Regions from separate parts of the Homo sapiens genome. Here regions 2 and 3 are each linked to region 1. The links come from fine-mapping of genetic effects on gene expression. A gene starts in region 1. Each other region holds a variant in brackets. All regions are shown on one strand. Distances are between the middles of the regions.

Region 1 (11,196 bases):
TCTCCACTAAAAATACAAACATTAGCTGGGTATGGTGGCACATGCCAGAAGTCCCAGCTACTTGGGAGGCTGAGTCAGGAGAAGCACTTGAACCTGAAAGGCAGAGGTTGCAGTGAGCTGAGATCGTGAAACTGCACTCCAGACTGGGTGACAGAGGGAGACTCTATCTCAAAAAAAAAAAAAAAAAAAATTATTGCTATTTTAAACAATTAATTTTTACAGATTTATTTTTTAATTAACAAAATTCTTTATATTTACGGTGTATAACATGATCTTGTCGTATATGGATACATTATGAAATGGCTGAATCAAGCTAAGTAATATATGCATTACCTCATATACTTATCATTGTGTGTGCCTGCTGAGCACATTTAACATCTGCTTTCTTGGCAATTTGTAAATATACAAAACATTGTTATTAACTACAATCACCCTATTGTACTATAGGTATCTTGAACTTATTCTTCCTACCTAACTGAATTTTTTTATTCTTTGACCAATATCTCCTTGATCCTTCCCAGCCCCAGCCCCTAGTAACCACCATTCTGCTCTTAACTTCTAGGAGTTCAACTTTTTAAGGTTCCACATATGAATGAGATCATGTGATATTTTACTTAATGACCTCCATGTTCATCCATGTTGTCACAAATGACAGAATTGTCTTTTTTTTTTTTAAGGCTGATTGATTTTTGACAAGGCTGTGAACACAATGGGAAAAGAACAGTCTCTTCAAAAAAATGGTGTAAGAAAATTGGATAGCCATATGCAGAAGAATGAAATGAAACCTTTTTCTCACACCAAATACAAAAATCAACTAAAAATGGATTAAAGACTTAAAACTTAAGACCTGAAACTATAAAACTACTATAACGTAGGGGAAAACTCCATGACATTGGTCTGGGCAATGATTTTTTTGAAGATGACCCCAAAAGCACAGGCAACTAAAGCAAAAATAGACAAACAGAATTACATCAAACTGTAAATCTTCTGTACAGCAAAGAAAACAATCAACAGAGTGAAGAGAAAAGCTAGCAAGTTGGAGAAAATATATGCAAACCATGCATCTGTTAGGGCGTTAATATCCAAAATATATAAGGAATTCAAACAATTCAGTAGCAATAAAACAACCCAATTTAAAAATGGGCAGAGGACCTGAATAAACATTTATCAAAGAAGAGCTACAAATGGCCAAGTAGATGAAAAAAAGTTCAACATCATTAATCATCAGGGAAATGCAAGTTAAAACCACGATGAGATATCACCCCACACCTGTAAAGATGGCTATTATAAAAAAGATGAAAAATAACAAGTGTTGGCAATGATGTGGAGAAAAAGGAACCTTTGTTGATGGGAATGTAAATTAGTACAGGCATTACGAAAACCAGTACAGAGGTCCTCAAAAAATTAAAAATAGGACTATTTTTAGCAATCTCACTACTGAGTATATGTCCAACAAAAATGAATCAGTATGTTGAAGAGATATCTGTGCTCCCATGTTCACTGCAGCACTATTCACAATTGTTGAGATAAAGAATCATCCTTAGTGTCCATTCATGAATGAATGGTTACTTTAATTTCCTACCATTGCCCTATTCCCTCCATATAGCCTTTGTTTCAGCCTTACTGAGCAATTTATAATTCTCAAACACATCATATTTCTTATTCTACTTAGACTACTTCCCTTCCCTAACACTTCCATCCCTAACCTTTGTTCTCTTAGCTAACTCACACTGACTCAGCCTCCCAAGTGGCTGGGATTACAGGCACCCACCACCATGCCTGGCTAATTTTTGTATTTTTAGCAGAGACGGGGTTTCACCATGTTGGCCACGCTGATCAAGAACTCCTGACCTCAAGTGATCCGCCCATCTCCGCCTCCCAAAGTGCTGGAATTACAGGCATGAGCCATGGCACCCAGCCCACACTGAAAACTTAATGCTAAAGTAATCTGTTTTGGAAAGCCTTCTCTGATCACCTCTTGGTATTTTGTCATTCTTTCACTATTGCCACAGTAAGTGTATATGTGCCTATTATCATCTTTATCACTTTTATATTCTAACACCAATTATAATACCATGCTGACATGCACAATTCTATACAGCATGGTAATAGCATGCATCAGTAAAGGTGCAGTGTGACTGATACCTCTACAAAACACAGAGCTGGGCAGTGCACCAATTTAATGGAGTCTGAAGGAATTTAAGTTCTAGAAAACTAAGGTGCTACCCAAGGTCATTCACCTAATCAATGGCACTTAGGGCACCAAAGTGCAGGCTGCTTGCAGTCATTCATTCATGCATTCAATCTGTAACAAGCAGACTGATGTAGAAATTTACTGGTGCTAAATTTTTGTTCTGGAGACGCAAAGAGGAAAAAAAGAACATTTTCCTCTTCCCTGAAGCGTAATTAGACTTTCTGAATTTCCAAGAAAAAGTCAAAAGACGGCCCCATCCACCTTTTCTTGTGATTAGGGCCTTGGTGCCTGGATACCTGAAAAGAAAAAAGCAAGATGAATTCCTCTGCTTTTGGATAACTAAAGGAGGCTTAAAGATACCCCAAAAGCAGAAGTAATTAGGGGGTTTAAAAAGGGAAGAAAGGGAAGACTTTTATTGCAGCTAGATCCCCATTGTGGGCTGGAAAAGGACAAGGGCTCCTAGTTTCACAAGAGTAGTGTCATGAACTTGTTAGGACATAAGAAGTGGCAGGACTAAAACCATGTCTTGAAATAAAATTACTAAGGGAACGAGAAGATAGAGAAGTCCAAGAACCAAACTCTGGGTATGCCAATGGCTGGAGAAGTGGTGGATGAGCCAATGGAGCTGCCAGTGAGATGGACGAACCAAGAGACAGGGGCCACCTGAAGGCCAACAGAAGAAGATGAATGCTTCAAGATGGCAGCTGTAAGCAAATGCTTCTAATGCTGCTGATAGTTCAGGTGAGATAATGGAAAAGTAACCACTGATTTAGCAATTCTGAGGTCATTGGTGACTTTGCCAAGAGGAGTTTCAATGGAGGGGTAGGGGCAAAAGCCTGGCTGAAATAGATTCAAGAATGAATAGGAGGGCCAAGCATGATAGCTCACATCTATAATCTCGGCACTTTAGGAGGCTGAGGTGGATAGATCACCTGAGGTCAGGAGCTCTAGACCATTCTGGCCAACATGGCGAAACCCCATCTCTATTAAAAATTCAAAAATTAGCTGGGCATGGTGGCACACACCTGCCGTTCCAACTACTTGGGAGGCTTAGGCATGAGAATCACCTGAACCCGGGAGGTGGAGGTTGCAGTGAGCTGAGATTGCGCCACTGCACTCCAACCTGGGCAACAGAGCAAGATTCTATCTCAAAAAAAAAAAAAAAAAAGAGGATGAATAGGAGGAGGGGATGAGGATACAGTTAGTATAAGTGACTCTTTTAAGACATTTTGGAAGAGACCAGAGAACACATTGGTAGCTGATAGGGGACATATAATCAAGGAACTTTTTAAAAGATAGGCAAATGTTGCGCAATGTTAATATGCTTATGGGAATGATCCAAAAATTAATGATACAAAAATTAATAATGTAGGATTGAGAGGTGACAACTACCTGAGTGAAAACCTTGAGACTGTAAGGAAGACAGGATCTAATACAAAGGTGGAAGAGTTGAACTTAAATAAGAGCATGCACAGCTCATTCCCAGTAATGGGAAGGAATAGAGTGCACAGGTACAGATGTAGGTAAACTTGGGAGATGTGGTGATGGGAACTTTAACTCCTGAAATACTAACCTATACTCTCTCAGAGTCTAAATTTTTAGTCTACTGAATTCAGCAATACAGTGAAGTTTAGTAGACCAAATTATCCAAAAGTGTTGAAGGAAACTTATATGTGATGGAGACATTTTTACTTCTTACTTTTAATTTTGACCGCCCTGGGAAAAACTGTTGGACCCATATAAAATTAAAATCTTTAGTGAAACACATTCTTTTATAGGTATATTTTAAAGTTTTAACTTCTGAGATAATATCACAGTTTTCAAAACACTAAGACATGTTTTTATTGTTAGCTAATTGTCAGGCTTCAGCTGAAGCACACCGTAAGGCCTGCATGAACTTCAGCTGTCCATAATGCGTAAAAGACCAAGTGCGCAAGGCAAACAGATCTTGCCATGGTTGCTGATGAAAGAAACTTAATCTCTTGGGGCCTGAGTTGCCTTATCTGTAAAGTAAGGATAATCCTTGCCTTACAGGATTATTGTGAGCTCCAAATAAGATAAACCTCTTGGCACACAATAGGTGCTTAAAAAAAAAATGCCAGCTATCATCACTGAAGTGAGCTTTTTCTGAGAGCAAACCTGTTTAACTCATAAATTTCTTTCATTGATAAGATGTAACCAGTGGAGAAACTTGGGGCAGGCACACGATGCCTCTCTGCACTATCGCTGCAACTTCCTGTTAATGTATACTTACTTTTTCTTCCATTTAGAGCTCTACAAGAAATACCTGTGTACCATTTTGCGTGCCTCCTTCTGAGGCTCAGTGGGCTATGCTCAGAGAATAGAGATAAATGTCTGCCCTATGTAGCAGAAAGGCAGTTATACATTTTAGAATGATGTTTTTCCGAAGAAATGACAAAAGCCAGACGAAACAGACTGACACGGTCACTGTGGTTTGGAATGTTAGTTTTTCTCTTTGGCTTTACTACTTTTGGCTCTACACTGTAGAGGAACCAGTGTCCTCATGAAACAGCCAGTATAAAAGCAAGTAGCTTACTTCACAGGAATAGCTAATAACATTTAATTGTTGAGCATTTAACCAAAACCCACTCAGGTCAATTTAAGTGTAGTGCAGTGGAAGAAATTATTGCACACTGCAAAGTTGTGGTGCATTTTACTTAAATCTACAAAGGCCAACAGAAGTGCAGTGTAATATAATAAATTACTGCAAAATATAATCATAAGGGGAGAAGGTGGCTGTTTTCGAAGCCCTTGGCCCCAAGGTAACTGAGGTCATCCCCCTGAACCCCCCAGCACACATCCTCATTATTTCAGCATTTGTACTACAGGGGGCTACAAGACTTCCGCCCCACAGCAATGGGGTGAAAACGTGAAGTGATCGGAGCCCCCAGATAGAGGGGCCAGCAATAGAAGAAAAGCTGGGGCAGGCTGGAGGAGAGGGGCTGTGGAAAAGGTTGCTCTCAGCATCATACACGCCTTATCCTTCTAGGTCGGGTATCCACAAATTCCCAAAATTTGCGAGAACATAACCCTGGAGAAGGTGGGGGTGACCCACGGAGGAACTCCCTGGAAAAGCGGAGGCGGCCCCAATGGGAGACTCCCGGGGGTCAACTCCGAGGGGAGGGGGCGTCTGCGAGAAAGGGGAGGGGCGGCGGTGGGCAGCCTAGGGAGGAGAGGAGGGGCGAGACGCCGTCGCCAGCCCCCTCCTCTTGTCTGCGCTCCCTTCGTTTCCGTCTCGGCCGGGCACCCGAGCGCATCCCGCCGAGGCCGGGCCGTTTCAGGGGGAGGCGCCAACTCATCGCGGCGCCGGGCCCCTGACCGTGCAGTAACCGCTACCCAGGAGGCGGAGCGGACAAGGCTCCGGCCTGCGAGGAGGTAAGAGGGTGGAGGAGTGGTGTGGGAGGCCGAGGGGGATCGCGGCCGTGACGTGGGATGCTGTCAGGTACCACTGGGGCAGGCCACCCCTCCCCGCCCCTGCGGCCCGACCTCCCCGCCAGAGACAGCTGAGGGGCCCAGGGGACTAGAGCCGCGACCGTGCCACAGGCCTAGGCGTCGTCGCGCATGCGTAAAACTGCTGGCGGGAGTTAAGAGCTAGGTTCCGGGGCTACACCCAGCCCAGGCCGCAGGCAGAGGCGGCCCTGCGCATGCGCAATTCCGCTGGCGTGGGCCCGGTGCGCTGCTCGCGACTACATCCTGCCCAGGCCGCCGGCCCAGGCTGCGCTGCGCATGCGCGAGTCCTCTGGTAGGGGTCGCGTTTGGCGTCGTTCCAGGGTGATCATCTGCTCGGAGGCCGCTCTCATCCTAAGCTCCCACGTCTGGTGTGGCTGGGGGGGCGTCACAGGTCCCGAGGGAGCGTCCTGCCTGAAGTTTCTCCCTCCTAACCCACTCGCTGCACTGCATATGTTGCCGATGTTTTCATTTCTGTGGCCTCGACCCCTAGGCTCCCGTCCCATAAATCTAGTACCCCAGGTCCCGGGCACCGGCCCGGCTCACTAACTCAGTGGCAGTATATGCTTTCGACATTTGGTCCTGATGTCCAGGAATAGCGCGAAAAGTTTGACTTTGTTAGGCGAAGCCGTTTTGGAACTGCGGAGGGATGGGAAGAAATCGCCGAGCGTCTTAAGCCGCAACATAGTGCTCTGCTCAGCCCTGGAAATAGAGGTTTTCAGACATTGAAAACTTTCCAAGTGCTCCGTCTTGGCGGAGAAAGAACTGAGTTGGAAGGCTAATTTAGAATGAACTTTTTGCTTTTGTTCTTTGCAAAAATTACATAAAATGTTGCAACAGTTCGAGACCAGGACTATAACAAAACGCATTTCATGGAGCTACTTTGTACCGCGCTTGGCGACTTACCTTGTCAGAGCTGAATAAAAGTGGTTGAGTTCACAAACAGTGCTCTGGATCGTTGCTCTTTCCCCCAGACACTGTTTAACGTTTATTGAGCCTCCTGGCTTTGCACCTTCCTAGTATTGCGTTCCTGCTGGGTTTTACACCTTACTAGACAGTGGGTCTTAGTTAAGTCAGTTTCGTGACTCCTGGGGCTACTGTGAAGAGTTTCTAACAATGTCATTACTCTGTGCTTTGTAATCTTATATGATGTGCTGATACAGATATTTGGGGGCTGGAATAGAAGAGCCACTTAGGCTCAGAGAATGAGTATTCTAGGTGAAACGTAATCTCTTTATTTCCTGCTAGACAGTACATGCGTGTTATTAAGCAGCAGGTAAAAGCAACAAGAATGATACGTTCTTGCATACCCCACTTCCACCACTCAGGCCTTATTGCTCTTGCTGGGCTCGCCAAGCGGACCCTCATCCCAGGGCGTCTGCGTTTGGTATTTCCAGTATGCTCAATGCTCACTTTCCCACTCTTCGCAAATCTGCATGGCACAGAACTTTATTTAAGTCTTGAAACAATTGCCATCATTTCAGAGAGGTGACTACCTCACCTAAAATGTCTGGCTCTCCAAACTCTTGTACTGCTGGTTCGGCTTTGTAGCACTTAATCACCATCTGATATTATATATTTGTAAGGGTATGATCAATCTATCTCCACCATAATTGAAGCTCAGAAGGTATTTGTTAATTGTAGAAATAAAATTGGAAACTAACTTACTCCAGAGATATTTTTTTACTGAACTCAACCTAGATTCATTCATTTATTCAACAAAAATTGATTTTCTATCACGTCCTGTCCTTGATGCTTGGGATGCATCAATGAACAAAAGAGACAAAGATCCCTTCCCTCTGGAGCTTACATTCTAGCAAAGAATGATAAAAAACATATTTGTATATTAGGTTAGAAAAGTACAAATGCTATGAAAAAATGAAAAAGGAGAACAGAGAAAGGGAATTGGGAGTGCAGGTGTGGGTTGCAATTTTAAACATCATGGGTACGGTGAGTCTGAAGGATAAACCAAAGGTGATGTTTAACATGGGGAACTGGGTTTTAGAAATAAATGTTCTTCTGGGAGAAAACGTTCTTTATCGTGCTCTACAATGTCTTTTATGGGAGCCCACGGCATGACCCTTGTGATAAACGTCACCATTTTTTATAGTATATAGGTGAAAAAACATTTTTTTCCTAAATAAGAGTTCAAATTATTCAGGAGTTTACAGTTTAACTTAGCACATCAAATGAAGACACTGGACTTTTACAAGGAAGAGCTAGCCAGACATCTATGTAAATTGTGCTGAGAAAAACTGTACGTTGTCTCCACAGTTTTTGCAATTGCTTCTAAATGTCCCTCTGACTGTGGATGACTAGTGAAGATCTTTTCTAAGAATGGTCATTGCTTTTCTGTATTTGAAACTGTGTAGGAGAGGAGCTTAAATCACCTGGTGTGATGTTATGCTATAAATGACCTCTCTTACAGGTATCTGAATGAACCAGATAGACCTAACTAAATTTCAATCCATAATTAAAGAAGGCTTAGAGAAAGAGGGTGATGGAGAGGAATAATTTTAGAAAGTAAAGTGTGTTTCCCCTCATGTCCTTTACTTACATAGATTACAAATACTCTGTTCAAACACCAAAATATTATTAATCTAGGACCATAAATGTAAGGAGTCCATGGAATTTGCTTATGCCCTATGAAATTGTCATATTCAAGTTTGGTTTTATCAGTTGGTTAAAGTAAAATTTAAATGCCCCAAGATACTGCTACTGTTGAGGTTTACTTGGATTTAAATTACTACAAATCAGGCCGGGCGCGGTGGCTCACCTGTAATCCCAGCGCTTTGGGGGAGACCAAGGCAGTCAAATGTTCTTGAGCCCAGGAGTTAGAGACCAGCCGGGACAACATGGCAAAACTCTGTCTCTACAGAAAAACGAACAAAAAAAAAATGAGCCAGGCATGGTGGCACACACCTGTAGTTTCAGATACTTGGGAGGCTGTAGTGTGAGGATCACTGGAGCCGGGAAGGTTGAGGCTGCAGTGAGTCATGATCACACCATTGCACTCCAGTCTGGGCAATAGTGTAAGACCCCATCTCATAAATAAATAAATAAATATTGCTACAGATTAAAATTGTCCAGGAAAAGGTAGATTGGAGACCAGGAATTATTGGGGTTACAGAGTGACATTAAGGACTCTTGTTAAAGACTAAAAGAGAGTTCTACTTGGAGATTTTACTTCAAAGGAGTGGATGGCTTGCCTCCTGGTAAGGGATATTGATAATGTCCATCAATGGAAGGCTGAGATGATACTTCCAGCTTTCATTGTCTGGAAGGAACATGTATCTAGTTCACATGGTGATCACATTCTAACAACGTGAAAGTTTCCAGGAAACTTAAACCATAATAATTTTTCAGCATTAATTTGACATTAGAGTGGGTTTCTTTTACGTCTTCAGCCTTGCTAATTGGCCTGAGCTAATATCTCTTATGTATATCTCCCTATGGAAGATGTTTTGAGCTAACAAGTACCAGTAGGAGATAGTATGTGAATAAAACATAAATTTTGACTGCATTATAATATGTCCTGTATTATGCTGCGTGTATGTATGTATATAATACTGAACAAAACCAATCTCAAGTGGAAATGAGCCAAGGCCAAGAGGGCCTGCCATGTTGAAGGAATATATATGCTGTGGGTCAAAGATCTTTAACAATTAGGATCTCTGTAGCAGGCGTGTTAAGATTTTTTTTTGAAAAATTGGATTAAATCTATAAGGACCGAGATTTAAAATGGATTTACAAATGAGATCTCAAATCTCAACTCACATTAGTGCATATAACAACTTAAAAATATTTTTATCATTTATGTTGGTTATTTTTCATATTTGAAAATGACACTTTTGCCGTGTGTGGCTGAAAAGACTGAAGTTGTCAAGCTCAGTAATCTTTTCAATTAAATACCGCTTTGCTTTGTACTGAAGATCTGACTCATCACTCTTGTTGAAATTTGGAAAACTTTTTAAAAAAACAAATAATTAAAATAGCAACAGGGTTTCTGTATTCTACACAACAGTTTTCTGTTTTTCATGAACATATGACAATACCATTTCCTTTGAGGTTGTGTGCTAGTTTTAGTTATGCTTTTAGTGTTTTAGTTTTGTCCGTCCTGTTTATAATTGTTCCATTTTAATTAGCCATGTAGGTATTTTACTGTTACTTGTCATTGATTTTAGACATCTCATTTAAGTGGAGCTAATATTACAGCTAACACTATCCCTTTTTGCAAGTGAAAACTGGGATCATGTTTTATTGTATACGTATTTATATTATTTATAACTTGAAGATGACCCTTAAAAAGCTATTAAAGATACTATCTAATGACTCACCTAAGGATATATTTGGGAACCATCATTATCCTATTGAAATTTATGTGGTCTGCAGCTCATTAACACACCGATGCTGTAAACTGCATGCTGGTACCCTAAAAGATATCGATATTATTTAATTTCCTGTTTCTTTTGATTATAAAAGCATCATCAAATGTGTTACCCACCCAGATGGGATAATTTTAAGCATAGAGTTCTATATTGAGAGAATTCTAAAAATATCAGTGTGTTTCTCAAGCATAGCTTTAGAGTTGATCTCATTAAGTTGAATTTTAAAATATGTAATACTGGGACTTCTCTGCAGGAATTGCTATTTTTTTTCACCCCTTCTTCTGTAATCACTTCTAAAGAAGAATTATTAGCATTTAGAAGCCCCTGATTAACTGCAAAATGTCAGCATTTAAAACCTACCATTGGGTTGGGGTAATGTGGACAGAAGTCCCTAAGAGAGCTGGATATTGTTTTGCTCTACGTTATTCTGTTTGCTCTCATGTATTTGCTTTCAATTCAGTGCCTACTGCAGGCACTGAATTAATATTTGTTGAATGAATTAGGCAAATGAACCTATGTCCCATAATCAGCTTAACTCATTTTTTAGGTCAGAGGTATTACCGAGTAATATAACACATTGTGTAGCAGATACACTGATTAATACTGATTACTTTGCCACAAATAATATGTACAGACTGCCTGTTATATCTTTTGTACAGGCAAATGAATTATTTGACTTTATGTGAGGATTAAGAATGAATGTGTTTATCACATTATCAAAAGAGTGTCCCCTTGTTCAGTAGTCTTCAACTGTGTAGTTTTTAAAAGTGTAGAGAAAACTCTCAACATAGAATATATAGAAATAAGGAGTTATCTGCCCCAAACAGGGATACTTTAAAAATAAATTAGTGAACCGTACAATTAGGAAAACAGCTGAAATAGGAAATGTCATGTGACAGATTACCTTACTTGATATATATTTGGCTTTGAAACATTACTTTTGTACAGACTTGAACTACTGGCCACCGAGTGTCCCATTTGGAACCTTTAAAGACAGAGATCAGTGGCAGGAACTTCTGCGTGGAGAGGTTACTTATCATTCCATTTTCTATTTATATTGCAAGGCAAACATTAGTATAATAAGATTCTGTAAAAACAGTTTTAGGTTACATTTTAATAAAATGAGGAAATAACATAGGAGACTGT
Region 2 (11,196 bases), 180 kb after region 1:
TTCACAAAGTTTAATGAGCCTTCATCCTTCCATCCATTTCAACAACACTTTGAAACTTCCATGTTATCTATTATTTTTAGCATTAATACTTTCATCATTTCAGAAGCAAGGAATTAGTCTGACCTTAAGTAAGTTTACATTTTTCTGTATATAATAATATAATAAGTGACTTTGAAATCCTACTCTTGAAGCCATGAAAGGAAGCAATTCTAGGCTAAAAGGAATATACCTTACTCATACTTCCTTAATGCTATCTAATTATATTAGCAAGTTATTTTTATTTAAATATACTTCCCATCTCATCACTCATCACCCACTGAAATAGTATGAGTTATAGCTTATATACAAAAAAATACATAGTTATTACAACATCCAATAGTAATAAAAACTTAGTTAAGCTGTTCCCTTAGAATAGGCCACTCTTCCCCATGCAATTTCATTCATATCTTTTTCTTGTTTCTTGCTTTTCTTCACTGGGAATGCCCTCCCCCAACACTTTACTGAGAATGCCTTTCCCCAATCCTAACCACTCTTCCATGTTAATTTCAAATACTACTTCTTTTATATGGTATTCTTTGGTCTTCCACAGCTGGAAAAACTTTCTTGTCTCCCAAACCTCCATTTGTTGTATTTTGACCCAAACCACTTTCTACCATATACTCTAATCATTTGTTTCCATGTCTTATCTTTCCTTCTATAACTTACACTACTTATGGGCAAAGTCCATGTCTGATTTATTTTTTATCATCCTGTCAGCCTTAGAACCATGTTTGGTACCCACTAGACATTCAATAAGCAACTGCTGAATGAGAAAGTAAAAGGGGCATAAATTAAATACTTACTATATGGTTCTTTGAGCAACATGGGAGGTGAGAGTTTAATAAAATAGTCAAGGACACATAGCATTAACTGAAATGAAATCACCAGATCATCTTCCATTTGTAATACTTCCCCTGAAAAAAAAATGTACATTTTTAAAGAAAGTTAGAGATTCAGATCTTTGTATGAGAGAAAATCGCAGGGTAGAGTATATCCATAAATTTATTCATTCAACAATCACTATCAGCATGGTAAAGATTTTCTTTCTTTTTTTTGTAAAAAAAAAAAAAATCTGTTTTAAAAGGTATAAAATATGTAAAATAGAAATATGTAAAGTTATGGAATTATAAATCAAGTGTTAAGTCTACTCTGAGAATTTTACATTTAAGTATTTCTGTTATAATTAATTCTTTATGTCTAAAATCACTATAAATTTTGCTTTTTAAATTTATTTCTAATTTTAAGAACTATAGAATGTATTACTCCAGAGAAAGATTTTGAAGTATGATAAATGCTAATCTTTAATTCTAATTTTATAAATATTTTATTTATATTTGTATAATATTTTATTATAATAATTAGAATTCAAATTTTTAATTCCACTTTTATAAGTATATTTATTATATAAAATTACTAAGTTTATTAGAATTTATTCTAATTCCAATGATTCAATTAATTCTCATTATCTAAAAATTTAAAATAATTATTTTATTTATAAAATTATGATTTTATTCCAATTATTTATATCTAAACCTTATATATTTTTAATTTCAACCCCTCTAAAATCTTACAATAACCAAAACCATTAAGAGATAACAAAATTAGTATATAAATTTAAAGTCATCTATAAAATAATTGTTCACCATAAAATCTTTAAAGTTATTAGAATATATATACAACTAGATGGCTGTGAGAAAATAAATGCATATAACAGATACCTAAGAAAACAAATAGTGTAGCTACATAAAATATACAAATCATGATAAAACACAGCTATTACAAATTTGCTTATGGCTCCATGTCATACATTATTTTTAAAAGAGAAGTTCAATTTGATTCACTTTCTATTTTCTGAGTATCTGACTGCTAAACCAGTAATAATCTCAGCAAACACTGGATGTGCAGAAACTTTGTGAGAAAACAGATAACGTTGCATCTTTATAGGTTTTCTAGATACAATGGTATGGTGCAAAAAATATGTCTGCAATATATTCACAAATAAGTTATTTTAAAATACCATAGTGGTAAAGAACGATATCAAGGATTTCTAGGTAAAAACGGTGAAGTCAGATGAAAGAATCTCTCTCAAGTACATTCTTTTGCTTTCATTTTATTAGGTATTAAAGTGCTGGTACCAATATCAAATGAGAGACTGACTGAGCGAGACTAACTCAAACGGTATCCTCATCTTTTGCCTCTCTGACTTGGAGGGAGAAACTGCTGATAAGAGAAGAGTAAAATGGAGGAAGTAAACAACTATAGCTTATTTTTCTGACAACACAGAGACTCTGCATACTGTGTTGAACTGGGGACAATTTGAATCCCAAAACAATCCTGCTATAGAAAAAAGATAAAACTGCCACTAGAAGTGTTCTGTTATAAAGTTCATTCTAACAAAAACTCAGAACAACGGCTTGTATCATTACAGTTGAATTATCTACTTTCTCCCTTACCTCCTGACTAAAAGCAGATATAATAAAAATGCCTGCTCCCATACCATAGCTCTTTGGGGAACATAAACAAGTCACAGATTAAGTGCAGAGTGAAGGGATATTCACTCACATTAAATCAGAGAAAACAGAACATCAAATCAGGGTTACACATATACAGTCCCAGCAATACGAGGGGGAAAAGCACAGTGATTATGTAAACATAGAAAATCAAAAAAGAATCACAACATAAGAAGGGGAAAAAAATCAGACAGAGAACCCAATCTGAAAGATAATCTAAAAGAAGAAAATGCCCTATGAGTGCTTGCACTAAGAACTTAACCAGCTGAGGCTGATTTGAGTGATAACTCCAGTTCTCCCACATGGGTCAGCCTAGTGGTCAATTAAACTATCTCTACTGCAATGCCACAATCTTGGTGGATTGATTTTGTCTGTGCAGCCAGCAGGAAGAACCCATTGGGGGATTACACTTTCCCTTTACATTCCTTATCGCAAATGTAGTTAAGTATTTCTGTGATTGTTCATTTAATGTCTATCTCCCTTACTTGACTGTAAGTTCTAGCTGAGCAGGGAACATATACATCTTCCACCACTTTAACCTAGCACGTAATATCATGCTTGAGACATTGTAAATTCT[A/G]ATAAATAACTAACTGTTGAATCAATAAATAAATGGTAATATTGAAGCTTCTCCTGATCATCATCTTACCCTCTCTGATGCACAACCATGACCTTTAGTCACCTGTAATGTACTATATGAAATGTAAACGTGCCTCTGAGATAAGAGGGTAGCATCACCATCACCACCTCATAGCTTTTACTTGGCAGCCATCACATCACTAAGTGTACCCCTCCCTGTAGAGACCTGATGCTAATCTAGAGTCCTTCTTAACACAATGGGCCGGGAAGCCACTAGCAATTGATCTGGGTTAGCAGGAGGGTTAAAATCCATTTGCTATTCTCAATATATTTGTTTAGTGATCCAAATACATATTATTGAATAATTCGTCTATTATAAATCCAATTCAATAAAAATGTATCATAAAAAGGAAATTAATGAACAAATTATATAAAAGGAAGGAACTAGACAAGCTAAGAAAAAAGATGAGGACCAAATAACACCATTACAAAAATAGTTTAGCTCAAAATGGAAAAAATGCTTGAGATAAAAACAGCCAATATGTAAGAAAAAGATTTAAAAATTCAGAATAATATGAGAGAAGACAATAAATAGGGAGAATAAAAGCAATCCAACATAAGAAAATGTTCCCAAAATACAATGGTATAGAACAACCTAGCTGAATAGAATATTTTTAAATAGAGTATGTTAAGATTTTCTAAAATGAACAGCAGAACCTTCAGTTTAAAAAGGGATACGGTGTTCAAAAAAAAAAAGCTAATACAGAATAACAAAATCAAGAAATGTTATCCTGTTTAAGGTATTAAACCTCAAATTAAAAAAAAAATTCTTCAGGAAGTAAATGAGGAGCGGAATTACGCTAGTCTCAGCTTTCTCAACAGCAATGTTCAATGCCAGAAAATATTGTCCTGAGGGAAACAAAATATGACTCAAGAATAGAATACATGACAAAGCTGTCCTTCAAGTATAAAAGCTATAGACATGATTCCTAAACATGTCAAACATAAAGAACATGGAACCAAAAAGCATATTTTTAAAAACTTGTTGATTGTAAAATACAGCCAGCTAAGAGATGAATAAAAATAAAGAACTGAGAAATGGAGAAACTATGATATAGGAGTTATGATAACCTTAGAATCCATTTAAATACAGAACTGAGACTAACCAAATGCAATAATTATAGTGACAAAATAGAATTTAAATGTTATAATACTTGATAATGTCATAACAATAAAATGGACTAATCTGAAAATGGAGAGGGGGAGGCACCAGGAAGAGTGAAGATAGTAACCTTCTTCAAACCAGATTAAAGTATATTGCTTTAAATAAAAACACAAACTTAAATAAAGATTGTAACCTCTTAATTTTTTCACATTTTTTCATAATCTTAGAGAAATAATTTTAGAAATAATATCACTTAAAGTGACAAAATACTTATCTAAATTTAAGCAATTCCTTCCATTTCTCTCTTCTATAAAATTTCAGTGAAATTAATTTTTATATTTTAAAGGTAGCACTGTAATATGAACCTAGTTTTAGAAAATTATATTCGTGAATGCACTCAACTACCCATCTTTTTAATCAAAATGTATATATGAAGATATCTGGAATGACAATTACATAATTTTTTAAATTTTAATTTTTGTGGGTACATAGTACATATATTTACGGGGTATGTGAGATGTTTTGATACAGGCATGCACTGTGAAATAAGCACATTATGCAGAATGGGGTATCCATCTCCTCAAGCATTTATCCTTTGAGTTACAAACAATCCAATTACACTCTTTAAGTTATTTTAAAATGTACAATTAAGGTATTATTGACTAAAGTCACCCTGTTGTGCTATAAAGTCTTATTCATTTTTTCTATGTTTGTGGACCCATTAACCATCCTCACCTCTCCCAAACCTCCACCACCCTTCCCAGCCTCTGGTAACCATCCTTCTACTCTCTAGGTCCATGAGTTCAGATTTGATTTTTAGATCTCACAAATAAATGAGAGTATGTGATGTTTGTCTTTCTGTACCTGGCTTATTTCATTTAACATAATGATCTCCAGGTCCATCTATGTTGTCGCAAATGACTAGACCTTGTTCTTTTTTATGGCTGAATAGTACTCCATTGTGTATATGTACCATATTTTCTTTATCCATTCATCTGTTGATGGACACTTAGGTTGCTTTCAAATCTTAGCTATTGTAAACAGTGCTGCAACAAACATAGGAGTGCAGATACCTCTTTGATATACTGACTTCCTTTCGTTGGGTATATACCTGGCAGTGGGATTGTTGGATAATATGGTAGCTCAATTTTTAATTTTTTTGAGAAACCTCCAAACTGTTCTCCATAGTAGTTGTACTAATTTACATTCCCACCAACAGTGTACGGGGGTTCTCTTTTCTCCACATCCTAGCCAGCATTTGTTATTGCCTGTCTTTTGAATATCAGCCATTTTAACTGCAGTGAGATAAATACCTCATTGTAGTTTTGATTTGCATTTCTCTGATGATCACTGATGTTGAGCACCTTTTCATATGCCTGTTTGTCATTTGTATGTCTTCTTTTGAGAAATGTGTATTCAACTCTTTTGCCAATTTTTTGGTCAGATTATTAGATTTTTTCCCATAGAGTTGTTTGGGTTCCTTATATATTCTGGTTATTAATTGCTTGTCAGAGGGGTAGTTTGCAAATATTTTTTCCATTCTGTGGGTTGTCTCTTCACTTCATTCATTGTATCCTTTGCTGTGTAGAAGCTTTTTAACTTGATATGATCTCGTTTATCCATTTTTGCTTTGGTTGACTGTGTTTGTGAGGTATTGCTCAAGAAATTTTTGCCCAGACTGATGTCCTGGAGATTTTCCCCAATGTTTTCTTATAGCAGTTTCATAGTTTAAGGTCTTAGATTTAAGTCCTTAATCATTTTGATTTGATTTTTGTATATGGTGACAGATAGGGGTCTAGTTTCATTCTTCTGCATATGGATATCCAGTTTTCCCAGCACCATTTATTGAAGAGACTGTCTTTTCCCCAGCATATGTTCTTGGCCACTGTCAAAAATGAGTTCACTGTAGGCATGTGGATTTGTTTCTGGGCTCTCTGTTCTGTTCCACTGGTCTATGTATCTGCTTTTATGCCAGTACCATGCTGTTTTGGTTACTATAGCTCTGTAGTATAATTTGAAGTCAAGCAACGTCGTCTTTCTGCTTAGGATAGTTTTCGCTATTCTGGGTCTTTTGTAGTTCCATATAAATTTGAGGACTGTTTTTTCTATTTCTGTGAAGAATGTCATTGGTATTTTGATAGGAATTGCATTGAATCTATAGATTGCTTTGGGTAGTATGGACATTTTAACAATATTAATTCTTCCAATCCATGAACAACATAAAATTTTTTTCCATTTTTTTGGTGTGCTCTTCAATTTCTTTCATCAGTATTCTATGGTTTTCATCATAGAGATCTTTCACTTCTGTGGTTAATTCCTAGGCATTTTATTTTATGTGTGGCTATTGTAAACAGGACTACTTTTTAAATTTCTTTTTCACATTATTCACTGTTGGCATACAGAAACATTACTGATTTTTGTATGTTGATTTTCTATCCTTCAACTTTACTGAACATGTTTATTAGTTCTAATAGTTTTCTTGTGGAGTCTTTAGGTTCTTCCAAATATAAGATTGTATCAGCTGCAAACAAGGATAACTTGACTTCTTTCTTTCCAATCTGGATTCCCTTTATATCTTTTGTCTGACTACTCTATCTAGGACTTCCAGTACTATGCTGAATAACAGTGATGACAATGGACATCCTCATCATGTTCTAGATCTTAGAGGAAAGGCTTTCAATTTTTCCCCATTAAGTATTATACTAGCTGTGGGTCTGTTATATATGGCTTTTATTACGTTAAGGTATGTTCCTTCTATCCTCAGGTTTTTTAGGGTTTTGGGCATGAAGGATGCTGAATTTTATCAAATGCTTTTTCAGCATCAATTTAAATGATCATATGATTTTTGTCCTTCATTCTGTTGATATGACATACCACATTGATTTGTTTATGTTGAACCATCCTTGCATTGCAGGGATAAATCCCACTGCGACATAATGAATGATCTATCTAATGTATTATTGAATTCAGTTTGCTAGTGTTTTGTTGAAGATTTCTGTATCAATATTCCTCAGAAATACTGGCCTATAGTTTTCTTTTTTTAATGGGTCTTTATCTGGTTTTGGTATCAGGGTAATACAGGCCTTGTAGAATGAGTTTAGAAGTATTTCTTCCTAGTCTATTTTCCAGAATACTGTAAGTAGGATTGGTATTAGTTCTTCTTTAAATGTTTGGTACAATTCAGCAGTGAAGCCATCAGGTCCCAGGCTTTTCTTTACTAGGAGACTTTATTATGGCTTCAATCTCATTACTTGTTATTGGTCTGTTCAGGTTTTGGATTTCTTCCTGGTTCAATCTTGGTAAGTTGTACATGTCTAGGAATTTGCCCATTTCTTCTATATTTTCCAGTTTATTGGCATATAGTTGCTTATAGAAGCCACTAATGATACTTTTAGTTTCTGCAGTATCAGCTGTAATGTCTCCTTTTTCATTTCTGATCTTATTTGTATCTTCTCTCTTTTTTCCTTAGTTAATCTAGCTAAAGGCTTGTCAATTTTGTTTAACTTTTTAAAAAAACACTTTGTTTCATTGATCTTTTGCAATTTTTTCATTGCAATTTCATTTATTTCTGCTCGATCTTTCTTTTCTTCTACTAATTTTGGGTTTGATTTGCTCTTATTTTTGTACTTCTTTAAGATACAATGTTAGATTGTTTATTTGAGTTTTTCCTCTTTTTTTCACCTATAACTAACCCACAGCCAACATCATACTGAATGTGCAGAAGCTTGAAGCATTCCCTTTGAAAACTGGCACAAGACAAGGATGCCCTTTTTCACCACTCCTATTCAACAAAGTATTGGAAGTCCTAATCAGAGGAATCAGGTGAGAGAAAGAAATGAAGGGCATCCAAATAGGAAGAGAGGGAGTCAAACTATCTCTGTGGCAGATGACATGATGCTATATCTAGAAAACCCTGTAGTCTTAGAGCCAAAAAGCTCCTTCAGCTGATCAACAACTTCAGCAAAGTTTCAGGATACAAAATCAATGTATAAAAATCACTAGTAGTTCTACACACCAACAAGAGCCAAGCTGAGAGCCAAATCAGAAAGGCAATCCCATTAAAAATTGCCACAAAAAGAATACATAGGAATACAACTAACCAGGGAGGTGAAAGCTCTCTACAACAAGAATTTCAAAACACTGCTCAAAGCAATCAGAGATGACACAAACACATGGAAAAACATCCCATGCTCATGGATAGGAAGAATAAATATCATTAAAATGGCCATACTGCCCCAAAAAAATTACAGATTCAAGGCTATTCCTATCAAACTACCAATGACATTCTTCACAGAAATAAAAAAAAAAAAACTATTTTAAAATTCAACTGGAACCAAAAAAGAGCCTGAATAGCCAAGGCAATCCTAAGCAAAAAGAACAAAGCTGGAGGCATCACATTATCCAACTTCAGACTATACTACAGGGCTACAGTAACCAAAACAGCATGTTACTGGTACAAAAACAGGCACATTTTTTTCAGAATAATGTAAACCAATGGAACAGAATAGAGCACCCAGAAATAAGGTTGCACACCTAGGACCAGCTGATCTTTTTGACAAAGCTGACAAAAGCAAGCAATGGGGAAAAGACTCCCATTTCATTAACTGGTGCTAGGATAAGTGGCTAGCCATATGCAGAAGATTGAAGCTGGACCCATTCCTTACACCATATACAAAAATCAACTCAAGATGGATTGAAGATGGCCAGGCCAGGTGTGGTGGCTCATTCCTGTAATCCCAGCACTTTGGGAGGCTGAGGTGCATGGATCACCTGAGGTAGGGAGTTCAAGACCAGCCTGGCCAACATAGTAAAACCCCATCTCTAGTAAAAATACAAAAATTAGCCGGGCATGGTGGTGCACACCTGTAGTCCCAGTTACTCAGGAGGCTGAGGCAAGATAATCACTTAAACCCGGGAGGCAGAGGTTGCAGTGAGCCGAGATTGTGCCACTGCACTCCAGCCTGGGTGACAGAGTGAGACTCTGTCTCAAAAAAAAAAAATAGATCCTAGACATAGGAACAGGCAAAGTCTTCATGATAAAGACACCAAAAGCAATCACAACAAAATCAAAAATTGACAAGTGGGATTGAATTAAACTCAAGAGCTTCTGCACAGCAAAAGAAACAATCAACAGAGTAAATGAACAACCTACAGAATGGGGAAAAATTTTGCAAACTATGCATCTGACAAAGGTTTAATATCCAGCATTTATAAGGAATTTAGACAAATTTGCAAGAGAAAAAAAACCAACCCCACTAAAAAGTGGGCAAGGCACATGAACAGACACTTTTCAAAAGAAGACATACATGCAGCCAATAAGCATATGAAAAAAAAGCTCCATATCACTGATCATTAGAGAAATGCAAATCAAAACCACAATGAGATATCATCTCACACCAGTCAGAATAGCTGTTACTATAAAGTCAAAAAATAACAGATACTGGTGAGGTTGCAAAAGAAAAGAGAACACTTATACACTCTTGGTTGGGAGTGTAAATTAGTTCAAACATTGTAGAAAGCAGTCTGACAATTCCGCAAAGAGCTAAAAGCAGAACTACCCTTGGACCCAGCAATCCCATTACTGAGTACATACTCAAAGGAATAGAAATCATTCTACCATAAAGACAAAAGCACGTGAATGTTCACTGCAGCACTATCCACAAAAGCAAAGACATGGCATCAACCTAAATGCTCATCAATGACAGAATGGATAAAGAAAATGTGGTACATATATACCATGGAATTCTATGCAGCCCATAAAAAAGAATGAGATCATGTCCTTCACAGGAACATGGATGGAGCTGGAGGCTATTATCCTTAGCAAACTAATGCAGGAATAAAAAACTAAATACTGCATGGCCTCACTTATAAGTGGGAGCTAAATGATGAAAACTGAAGAACACAAAGATGGAAACAACAGGCACTGGGGTCTACTTGAAGGTGGAAAGTGGGAAGAGGGAGAGGAACAGAAAAAATAGCTATTGGATACTGGGCTTAATTCCTGGGTGATGAAGTAAGCTGTACAACAAACCCCTGTGACACAAGTTTACCTATGTAACAAACCATCACATGTACCCCTGAACCTAAAAGTTTTTTTAAAAAAAGATGTTTTCCTCTTTTGGGATGTAGGCACTTACAGCTATAAACTTCCCTCTGTACTGCTTTTACTGTATCCCATAGGTTTTGGTTTGTTATGTTTCCATTATTTGTTTCAAAAATTTTTTTAATTTCCCTCTTAATTTCTTCATTGACCCATGGCCATTCAGGAGCATATTGTTTAATTTCCATGTATCTGTACAGTTTCCAAAATACCTTGTTATTAATTTCTAGTTTTATTCTATTGTGATCAGAGAATATGCTTGATATTATTTCATGCTTTTTTAATGTTTTAAGCCTAACACATGGTCTATCCTTGAGAATGATCAATATGCAGACAAGAAGAATGTATATTCTTGGATGAAATGTTCTGTAAATATCTATTAGATTCATATGGTCTATATAGTGCAGATTAAGTCTGATGTTTCTTTGTTGATTTTCTGTCTGGAAGATCTGTCCAATGCTGAAAGTGGGGTGTTGAAGTCTCCAGCTATTTCTATTGTATTGGGGCCTATGTCTCTCTTTAGCTCTAATAATATTTGCTTTATATATCTGGGTGCTCCAGTATTAGTTGCATAAATATTTAACACTGTTATATCCTCTTGCTGAATTGACCCCTTTATCATTATATAATGACCTTCTTTGTCCTTACAGTTTTGTTCTTGAAATCTATTTTGTCTGATATAAGTATAGTGACCCCTGCTCTTATTTTGGTTTCTGTGGGCATGGAATATATTTTTCCATCCCTTTATTTTCAGTCGGTATGTGTCTTTATAGGCAAAGTGTGTTTCTTGTAGGAAACAGATCAAA
Region 3 (11,196 bases), 290 kb after region 1:
TGACCTAGCAATTCCATTCCTAGGTATAAATCCTGGATAAACTTTTGAATATGTAAGGAAATATGTCCAAGAATATACACTACATTGTCAGCAACAAAAAAAAAATTCGAAATAAATTATTATAGATTCATATAATACTGCTAAAAAGATTCAACTAGTGACCAGGCCCAGTGGCTCGTGCCTATACTCTCAGCACTTTGGGAGGCAGAGGCAGGAGGACTGCTCAAGCCCAGGAGTTCCAGACCAGCCTGGGCAACATAGCAAGATCCTATCTCTTTTAAAAAATAAAAATTAAAAAAAAAAAGTACTAGCACTGCTGATTTTTAGATAAGCCTAAGAAACATAATTGCTGACCCCCCCAAAAAAGGCACGTTGCACAACATATAACACCACATATTTAAGTATTATGTAAGTATGTGATATTTAAGACTTTCAAAACATATAAAATATACTTCAGGTTCTCTGTATTTTGTGTGCCTGAAATATTTCATAATTTTAAAAAGAAAAAAACCACTAACAAGTAAGAGCTTCTTCACTGGGGTATATAACTTTACCTGGCCTAATTTAAAACAAGTCACCGAGACGTTTCCTCCCTTCTACTGCAATAAAACTGGTGCACCTTGCATCGCGCTTAAAAGGTAACAGAACTCCCACAGGTGCTGTACAATTATCATCTAATTAATCTTCCTAAACCTCAAGTTTTTTAGCCCAGTTTATAAAAGAAGACACTGCAGCACACGCTGGCCTATAACCACCTTGCAACAGTAGATATAGAAAGACCTGGCTTTCAGGAGCACTCTCACTCTGGCACAGTACTAATTTCTAGTTCAAATAAATCTCAGCATTGGATAATAAAATAAAATTACTTAAGAAGTTATATCTTAAACAAAATGAAGGACAAATTCTTTTCTGGTACTTCAATTAGTTAAGAATTAGGTCACCTCAATCAGTTCCCTAAGAGGCTTTAGTAAATGTGCTTCAATTATAAACTTAAATAAAATGTATATTTTTTCGTATAATTTCAATTCTGTTCTCAAACTAACAAATCACTTTATATTCTTAGGCACCTCTATTTGAACATTTTTTTACAGGATGACTGAAGCTTTTAAGAGACATTTTTCAAAGTGCTCAGATACAATATTTTACATTTCTGTATCAAATTCAACAACAGTGCTTTAGGAATCAGGATACTAATGAGGAAAACAACTCTTAGTGTTAAAAATTATATTATCAAAAAATATACATAAAAAAAGAACCAATACCATTTATTCAACTCAAAATATACTGAACCTTCAGAAATAGATTTAGTTACTCAGAAACATGCTGGGTAACATAGGTAAATATGGGGGTGCATAGGACAGCTGCCCACAGATGTGTTGTTTGGCTGGTATAATGCTTTCCAAAACAGCAAAACAGCTGGGACATTAAAAAAATTTAGTGATTCGCACTTTTAAAAACTAGGATTTCCCGGCCAAGCGCAGTGGCTCATGCCTGTAATCCCAGCACTTTGGGAGACTGAGGCAGGTGGATCACAAGGTCAGGAGATCGAGACCATCCTGGCCAACATGGTGAAACCCGTCTCTAATAAAAATACACAAATTAGCTGGGTGTGGTGGCTTGTGCCTGTAATCCCAGCTACTCGGGAGGCTGAGGCACGAGAATCGCTTGAACCCAGGAGGCGGAGGTTGCAGTGAGCTGAGATGATGCCACTGCACTCCAGCCTGGTGACAGAGCGAGACTCCATCTCAAACAAAACAAAACCAAAAACTAAATTTCCCATCAATGTTCTAGTATTTTCAACTTCTCTCTTATCTTTTTTTTCTCTCTACTTGGAGACCAAATATAGGTTTTGAATTCTGATCTTCACTTCCAGCTATGACTGGGTATACTTCCTTCTGGGATCCTATTTATATTAAATAATCAATCTAAACTACTTCTCCATATAAAGGGTTTTGAGTTCTGGGTTTTGTACACTGGGACATATTCATTTGGTTTCTACATTAGGTTTCTTTCCTCAGTATGAAAGCATCAAAAGGACATGATGTGGTGATCCGCTAATTATTAACTGCACTGATTATCAAATATATCTGGTATATGTAAGACACAAAATCTCTGGCTGAGAAGTTAACAATCCATGAGGACATCAAACATTTGTTTGCATTTTTTCTTATTCACTTAAATCAGTATCTGAATTTTGCTTTTTAATTTGCCTTTTGAAATGAGATTGCTGCTGTCTTGACTGTAGTGAGGAAGTCCACGTGATAAATGTTTGACACATAAAAAGGAAGCAGTTTTCCTAGTGTCTGGCATTACACAGAAAGCTGCTCTCTATATTTGTGAGTACTCTATTTCACAAAGGCCTCTGACCTTCTGTCAATATTAGATTTCATTTAGTTAAGTTAAATTAGTATTTACAGTCAAAATTGGGAATTATACCAACATGTTATGATTAATGAAGTTATGGAATTATTCTGTACTGGAATTCGAACAGGGGAAGGCTTTAAAAAGGAGAACTTAGGCTGGGTGCAGTGGCTCACGCCTGTAATCCCAACACTTTGGGAGGCTGAAGCGGGTGGATCATGAGGTCAGGAGATTGAGACCATCCTGGCTAACACGGTGAAAACCCATCTCTACTAAAAATACAAAAAATTAGCCAGGGGTGGTGGCAGGCGCCTGTAGTCCCAGCTACTCGGGAGGCTGAGGCAGGAGAATGGCGTGAACCCAGGAGACAGAGCTTGCAGTGAGCAGAGACTGCATGCCACTGCACTCCAGCCTGGGCGACAGAGAAAGACTCTGTCTCGAAAAAAAAAAAAAAGAACTTAAACTACAAGGTCTATAAAACAGATTCCTCATTAACATACTTTTTTGTTAAAAAATCCTGCAATATAAAAGCAGTAATATAGAATGAAAAAAAATTAAAATTTAAAGCCACTGCATAATAATGTAACTACTGTCAGAAATCTATGAAACTTGAACCAAATTATTAGCATCACATAAAACTAGCACAGTTTTAGGTTAAATAAAAATAGGTTGGAACTTGAAAAAAAAAACAACAGGCAGATTATCAACGCAATGCATTTAGAACTGGATCATAACTTAATCACTTTTGTATCAGAGACAAGCAGATTAGTGCAAAGTAGAATATTTATATGAATAATAAGTTTAAAATCTCTTATTCTTTTTTCTACATAGTTTAAAAAATGACCATCATTTCTCTACTGTGTTTATTCAATCTATGCTGAACAGAACTGTAACCATTTTTTTTTTTTTTGAGACGGAGTCTCACTGTCACCCAGGCTGGAGTACAGTGGTGCCATCTCAGCTCACTGCAACCTCTGCCTCCCAGGTTCAAGCAATTTTCCTGCCTCAGCCTTCCGAGTAGCTGGGATTACAGGCACATGCCACCAGGCCCAGCTAACTGTTGTATTTTCAGTAGAGACGGGATCTCACCATGTTGGCCAGGCTGGTCTCGAACTCCTGACCTCAAGTGATCCGCCCGCCTCAGCCTCCCAAAGTGCTGGGATTACAGGCATGAGCCACTGCACCCGGCCTTGTATCCGTTTTATAAAGTGAAATTTTAGCAGAATTTCAAATTCATATTGGTGAGTAAAAGGCACTGGGATAGCAAAAAGCCTAGATTAGCACAAACAGGTAAATGTTCATAAACAACAGCATTATATACAAATGTTATTTATTGTTAATAATATCCTTTACCGGGATAAATTGGTGAAGACAGATTTTCTCTACCACTGGCTGAATGAAACTCCACATTGTTACCAGTATCAACAGTTTCCCTAAAAATTTTAAGCACAATTCGAATGCTCTAATTTTATATAATTCATTATAAAATTCAGTGTCAAGATTAAAGAAAAAAAAGAACAAACCTGTTCTAGACTCACTTTTATATAAATGCTGGCTTTTAATGTCTTTCAACAAGATAATTATACATTCATATTCAAATATGGGTAATTTCATTTAAAATGCAGAACTTTTGGTAAGAAAATTCCAAGTATATTCATCTGAAAGTATAACATAATTTAAATGTGGATAGTTAAGAGAAAATTTCTGTCCAAGTTTGGAATTCTAAATGTTAAACAAGATGACTACTAGAAAAAATAGTTCTAAAGATCAGGAATACTTGTCTCTCTACATGTGAGAAGTGCTTTGATCCTATGAGCCCTACTGCCTAGCACTGAAGGCATGTGCAGTAAAAACTCAGTGGTAATATTGAATGTTGCTCCCTTACTCCACCACTCTCCTGGCTCTTGGATCCAGCGGTGTGATTTTCTTCTAAGAATAAATATAGGCATTTAAATAGGTTGTGACTAATTTGGTTTTCATAACTGGTTGGTCTTCCCTAGCTACACAATGTTTCTTGAAAGCTGGGGTGTTTAGCAATTTTTAAATTCCAGGTATAGTACCTGGCTATCCAGTAGGTGCTTCTGAATATATGATCAATACAGTTCTCAGGAATAGATCCCCTATGGAAGTACCATGAAGGTAGTTTAATCCAATACATCATTTACAGATAAATATGAGGCCCAGAGAAGTAAAATTATTTATGTAATATCACAGAGCTAATAAAGTCTGAATATTATCTTGACTCTATGTGCTGCTTAAGGAAACTGACTCAAACAGCTTAGGCAAATTAACTCTGGTAATAAATGAAGTGACAGACACCATGTCACACTTGGATAATACTCCTAACCAGAAACCACATAGCCTGATTTTTTTTATTAAATATATATACTTTTTAATTAATTAATTAATTTTTTTTTGAGACAGGGTCTTGCTCTGTCACCCCAGCTAGAGTGTAATAGTGCAATCACGGCTCACTGCAGCCTCAACCTCCTGGGCTCAAGTGATCCTCCTACCTCAGCCTCCCAAGTAGCTGGGACTACAGATGTGCACCACCACACATGGCTAATTTTTAAATTTTTTTGTGGAGGTGGAGGTCTCACTATGTTGCCCAGGCTGTTCTTAAGCAATTCTCCTGCCTCAGCCTCCCAAAGTGCTGGAATTATAGACGTGAGCCACCATGCCCGGCCCACAGCATGAATTTCTACTGTTGTAAAAGGTTTACTTAAATTGACCCACACTAATAAGCCCTACATGTGTGAACTATTACAAAGGCAGTAATATTACTTTTAATATGTTGTCAAAATTAATAGGGCTTTTCTCTGTTGTTCAACAAATTACAAAGGATGGTAGCAAAAAGTATTAAAATCACATACATGTGAACTTAAAACAATAAAGGAAAATAACTAAGGCACACCAGCACATAAGCATTTCAACATAAATGAAAAAGGCAA[C/A]ATATTAATTACAAAAATGAAACTTTTTTAAGTTAGTTGGAGTAATAATGCCACAAAGCAAAACTACAAAGTTGGTAATGAGTTGCCTCTAAAATTCCTCATGAAGGAGACAATCTTGGAACTTTGAAGAGGACGATCAGAGGATGCCTCATCAATCTTTCTAGACCATCCTGTCTGATCTTAAATTAATGCTAATGGTAATTCAGATGGTTTCCATTATTATCCATTATTAATTATCATTAAGTCAATTTTTAATGTAAAAGGAAATATTCTAACAAATCTTTAAAAAGCTATCAAGATAGCTAAGTTGAAGTTCTAATATTGATTTCCAGTGAAATGTTTGTTTACTTCCTCCTGAAAGCTCAATAAAGCGACAGTAAAGGGATAAAACAAATAAACCTTAAGCCACAAAGAATGAAAATGAATGACAGCAGACAAGTCATGTCAATAAAAATGTTGAAAGCTGAAAGCATAAAAGAAAAAAGAAAAAAAAGATATAAGGAGAAAATCACCAGCCTGTAGACAACCAAAGGGGGAAAAAAAGTCATGTACAAACAAGGAATCAGAATGGCATCACATTAGAAGATAATGGAGCAATGCCATCAAAATGCTGAGAGAAAAATGAATGCTAACCTAGAATTTTACACCCAGATAAATTATCAAATATGAGGATGGAATAACGATTCTGAGACACGTAAGATTTTTTAAAAATTTATCTTTTTCTTCAGATTTATGAAACTGTAGATCTAGCATGTGATAAAGACAAAGGCAATTCTTCCAAGATGATTATGACTCTCAGGACATTTGTATGAGTGCAACCAGTCTGGAATAGAAAACTAATGAATGATGGGCAAGAAATCATCAAAAAAAAAAGAAAGAAAGAAAGAAAGAAACTTGGTAAGTTACCTGGTGAGTTTGAAGACACAGAAAGACAATTATACTGCTGTCAGAGTCTGAGGAATGAATGAGCAGTAAGTATGTAGAAAATTAAGGAACCCTCTCTCCTGCCCCAAGAAGCATGATCAAATTCAGGGAAAATAAAAAGTTGTTATACAAGAATGGAAGTAAAATAAAAGTATACTACAATACTCAAATGTAACTAATGTTTATGTTAATTATAATAAAAAACACTAAATATCAATTTAACCAGAAATTGCTAGAACAGGAGAAGAGATCATGTGTGCAGTGTGTAAATATTCAGAAAAAGCTAAATATTCACCTTCCATGTAGCTATTATCAATAGGTATTATCTAAAACTGCAAAAAATAAAACAAATGAAAACAAACCATGAAACAGCAGTATAAGCAAATATTTAGAATAGATGTTCTGCAAATGTGGTCCAGGAACACACCCGTTCAGGGGGTCCACAAGGTCAAACTTTTTTCATAATAAAACTAAGACTGTGTTAGTTTAAATAATAAAACTGTCATTTTCACTTTCATTCTCTCGCTATGTTTATATACAATAAAAATTGTACAGTGCAATTTTCCAGAAGCTAAGCACCATATCACAACAGACTGAATGAAGAATTTGATAGGAAAATCCGGCTATCTTCTATTAAGCTATTCAATAAAGGGCACTGCCGAATGTAAAACAATGTTACTGTTAGTCTTCTTAAATCTTTTTGGTTATTTGGAAATATATATAACCTACATAAAGCAAAAGCTCTTTGGGATCCTGAACAATTTTTAAGACTATAAAGGAGTTCTCAGAGCAAAATGTTTAACAACCACTGATTTAGAGAAATAGGGAGTTAAAAGAGAAACATGGAGGGCCAGGTGCTATGGCTCAGCCTGTAATCCCAGCACTTTGAGAGGCCGAGGTGGGTGGACCACTTGAGGTCAGGAGTTCCAGACCAGCCTGGTCAACATGGTGAAACCCCGTCTTTACTAAAAATACAAAAATTAGCTGGGAGTGGTGGTGGGCACCTGTAATCCCAGCTACTCGGGAGACTGAGGCAGGAGAATCACTTGAACCTGGGAGGCGGAAGTTGCAGTGAGCCGAGATCATGCCACTGCACTCGAGCCTGGGTGACAGAGCAAGACTCTGCTGCCCGCCGCACCACGCCCTACTGGGGCAAAAAGTGAGAAACATGGAGTTAAGATCGCCATGTATGGTTGGGCAGGTTGTTTCCAGTACAAGGATGCCAGGCCAAGGGAATCAGTAGGTCTAGAAACCAACTGATGCTCTATTCTCCAAACCACCAGAGAGGGGATCTTTTTCTAAATTGCACAAAGGCAGAAGAGGGTCTAGTGGTCACCATGGTAATAAAAGACCATAAGAAGCTAATAAGTGAATATGATTGCTTTGAATTAATCTATGGGGAGAAAAATTAGAATAGTGGTTACCTCTAAGGAGAACAAATTGTAAAAGGACACAAGATAACTTTCTGAGTTGATAACAATGTTCAGCTTGATTGGGAGTTAGAGCCCAGGTATACAGACTTAAAATTATCTAACTGTACACTCATGATCTATGCATTTTACTGTATACAATGATGCTACAATTTTTTTAAAGTATGTTCCTCTGACATAGGGCAGGACTATATATTTGCATATTAAAATTTAGTATTACTTTGGTAAAACTCAAATTCTATTAACACCTATTATGTAATGAATAAATAACATTTTTAAATGAAATCGGTACAGCTACTGAATCCTAAGGGTTTTTATGTTGCAGGAATCAATCTTTACCAGAATGCCTTGCTGTGAAAAAAGTACCAACAATATTGTTACTGACATGTGAGGCAGGGATAAGCAGTAACAGTAATATAAGAAGTAATATTCCAAAACAAGAATGATGAGGAGAGAAAACTGGGACTTTAATAATAGTAGTTGATCAAGAGGTCAGGAGTTCGAGACCAACCGGGCCAACATGGTGAAACCCCGTCTCTATTAAAAATACAAAAAATTAGCCAGGCATAGTGGCAGGTGCCTGTAATCCCAGCTACTTGGGAAGCTGAGGCAGGAGAATCACTTGAACCCGGGAGGCAGAGGCTGCAGTGAGCCAAGATCACACCATTGCATTCCTGCCTGGGTGACAGGGCAAGACTGTTTCTCAACAAAAAAATAAATAAAAATAACAGTAGCTGAAATCTACTAATTTTTAACTCTGTTCCAGGCATTGTGCTATTATTGTTACAGATTATTATTTTCCCTATTTTGCTGATGAAAAAACTGAGACACAGAGAACTGAAGTAACTTACCCAAGGTATCAAAGTAAGTGATAGAGACAAAATTTAAATCTTTTGAAGAATGACTGTATAACCTGAATTCTGCTAGTGCTGCTGCTTCCTGAATAGCAGCAGCCCCTCCCCAACAATTCAGTGAGGGTACTGGGCAAAAAGGAGAAATATCATTCCTTTGATATTTTTCCCAACCATTAAAAAATATAAAAATCATTCTTACCCCATGGGCTACAGAAAAACAGCAGGCAGGCAGTATTTGAAGATATAGGCTATAATTTGCCAGTCCTGCGTTCCACTTTAAAGGAGATTATAAAATAGTGGCCCATGCCTTCAGTGTTTTGGGCTAAAATTGTTGTATAAATTAAAATAGTACTGATTTTTAGCTTGCCTTGGAAAATTGGAGGATCCAGCAACACTGGACTCATGTTTTAAAAATGAAAACCAAGAATATTCTTTTGTTTTTTGAGACAGAGTCTTGCTGTGTCACCCAGGCTGGAATGCAATGGCGCAATCTCAGCTCACTGCAGCCTCCATCTCCCAGATTCAAGCGATTCTCCTGTTTCAGCCTCCCAAAAAGCTGGAATCACAGGCGCATGCCACCACGCCTGGCTAATTTTTGTTTTAGTAGAGACAGAATTTTGCTATGTTGGCCAGGCTTATCTCGAACTCCTGACCTCAGGTGATCCACCAGCCTCAGTATCCCAAAGTGCTGGGATTACAGGCGGTGGCTTGCGCCTGGCAGGAAAACCAAGAATATTCTTACTTGTTTCATATGCAAAAAGTCCAGCTTCAACAATTCATCTGCTTCAGCCCAGGAGACACTGAATTTGCCTTCTCTGCTTAAGATGCCTAGCACGGCCCTAGGTAAAACTGATAGACAGGAAATTTTATGTCCCAGTATTAAAGGGAGGAAAAAATGAATTGGATAAAGTTATATAAAATGAAAAACTGAAAACTGATAATGCAAAGCTAAATAGACTAGCTCTCAAAAATCATTTTCCCCAGCATAAAAATGGGTCTGCTTTTGGATACTGCAGAGATTCAAGTGATTTAATTAACAATGCATCTTTTAAAATTTTTATATAAAATAATTTAAAACATTATAATCATATATAAGCAGAGAAAATAGTTAAGACTTAAGCTTTATCCTTAACTCATTCTGAAAACAAACAACTTTTAAAAATAATTTGCATCTTGACTGCTCTGCCTATGCAGTACCATTCTTTTACTCCTTTACTTTCTTAATAAACTTGCTTTCACTAAAAAAAAATAATAATTTGAGCCTTAAAGTTAATCATTCAAATAAACACAAAAATCCACCAAACTTGTTTTTTAAAGTATGAAATTCAACTATGCCAAAAACGGTTTATGCAAATATTTCAAAATTTCAAAGTACAAAATATCCACCACCATACTTAGTATCACTTTCCCAAATAAACGTCCAGGATATTTAACTCAGAAGTGGTATTATATATAAGCTGTGAAAATTTTATTTCTCTTTTGTCGTACTTATGTTAGTTCAACATCATAAAATTATTGCTGGTAACTTATCAGTACTGAAAGATAAAACATTAAGTGAAAAATCAGAATATATCTCTACCATAAAAACAAGGGTAATTTCCTCATCGCTACAACTCAAGATTCAAACTTTTCTGTTTAAGAATAAAAAGTCTACGTTCATTCTTACCTGATTTTTCCCCAAGTACAATTATAGAAATACTGCAAAAAGTTTTTTCCTCTAATAAAAGAGCTTAAAGAATGCACAATAATTTAAAATAATCTTGTTCATTCAATTGTTGATAACACTTATAAAATGAGGTTGTATTGTAGATCTCCTTAAAGCTATTAAAAATATGTGTTGTAAGTACTAATTAAAAGGGATAATCACAATTAAGTGGAAATTTTTCAAAAATGATGTCCTTAGTGTTATAATTTCCAATTTTCAACTTTCAGCTGTCTACTTTGGAAAAGACTTTCATTGTGAAGCACAGCTCCAGTGTTAATATTTTGTATATCATTTAGGCAAAAATCACCTCATTCAGAAATTCAGAATTGTCAAATCCTTTAACAGGTTTCAGTAACGGTCTAAAGTCCTTAATTTCTTTTCCTTTAGTCTTTAAGCTCTAATAAAATGCCACGTTTGCCAAAAAATTTAAGAGGATGATTTTACTGGTAACCCAAAAAGATTTTTTTTTCTGAGTCTTCCTTTACTGACACTGACATACAAAGCAGTACAAGAAGCTTTAGTTAAATCTAGGAATTCAGGAAGTAGTATTTCCTTTTGGAAAAAGAATGTGGGTTTTGAATAGACACGCCAGACATTTAAGTTATGGTATGATAAAACTAAGAGAAATAAAATCTCCCCCAATGACTACTTAGTACATGTTTCTATGTACATTTACCCACAAGTCAAGATTTGGAAATGCATAATAAACACCTTGTAAGTCAAATTCTAAATTAATTTAAATAGGCCTGTAACATAAACGTATTTGAGATATTTCTGCTTAAAAAATACTTCCAGTCACATAAACCTTTTATATGTCAGAGTTGAATTCCATGAGGTCACTCAGGCTTATTATGCCAAGTATATTATACTCATTTCTGTCTAGTTGGGAAGACTACAATCCTGTGCAATATGCAACCTTGCACACCCAATATGCTACAGCAGTGTCCTGTCAGGGATGTGTACACAGGAGG

Evidence for each region. PIP is the estimated chance that this variant, and not a neighbour inherited with it, causes the effect.
Region 2: its variant is the best candidate, but not a certain one, in a credible set for the expression of RCBTB2 in tibial artery (GTEx, PIP 0.51).
Region 3: its variant is the best candidate, but not a certain one, in a credible set for the expression of RCBTB2 in nasal epithelium (TOPMed, PIP 0.65).

The regions. Positions count from the first base shown.
Region 1 is chr13:48,527,422-48,538,617 of GRCh38, reverse strand. It overlaps RCBTB2 (RCC1 and BTB domain containing protein 2), which reads left to right and starts at 5,538. Exons shown (of 15, transcript NM_001268.4): 1 at 5,538-5,590. LOC124903174 (a long non-coding RNA gene) reads right to left here and starts at 10,914. Exons shown (of 2, transcript XR_007063795.1): 1 at 6,569-10,914. RefSeq lists silencers at 5,323-5,372, 5,483-5,882 and enhancers at 5,923-6,162, 7,053-7,222.
Region 2 is chr13:48,349,774-48,360,969 of GRCh38, reverse strand. RB1 (RB transcriptional corepressor 1) reads right to left here. Exons shown (of 27, transcript NM_000321.3): 7 at 843-953. Among named protein-coding and RNA genes, the nearest start is that of RB1, 52 kb to the right of the region's middle. The variant A/G (reference allele first, on the strand shown) is at 3,127.
Region 3 is chr13:48,237,399-48,248,594 of GRCh38, reverse strand. All of the region lies in intron 1 of ITM2B (integral membrane protein 2B), which reads right to left. Among named protein-coding and RNA genes, the nearest start is that of ITM2B, 9.8 kb to the right of the region's middle. RefSeq lists an enhancer at 6,794-7,294. The variant C/A (reference allele first, on the strand shown) is at 5,313.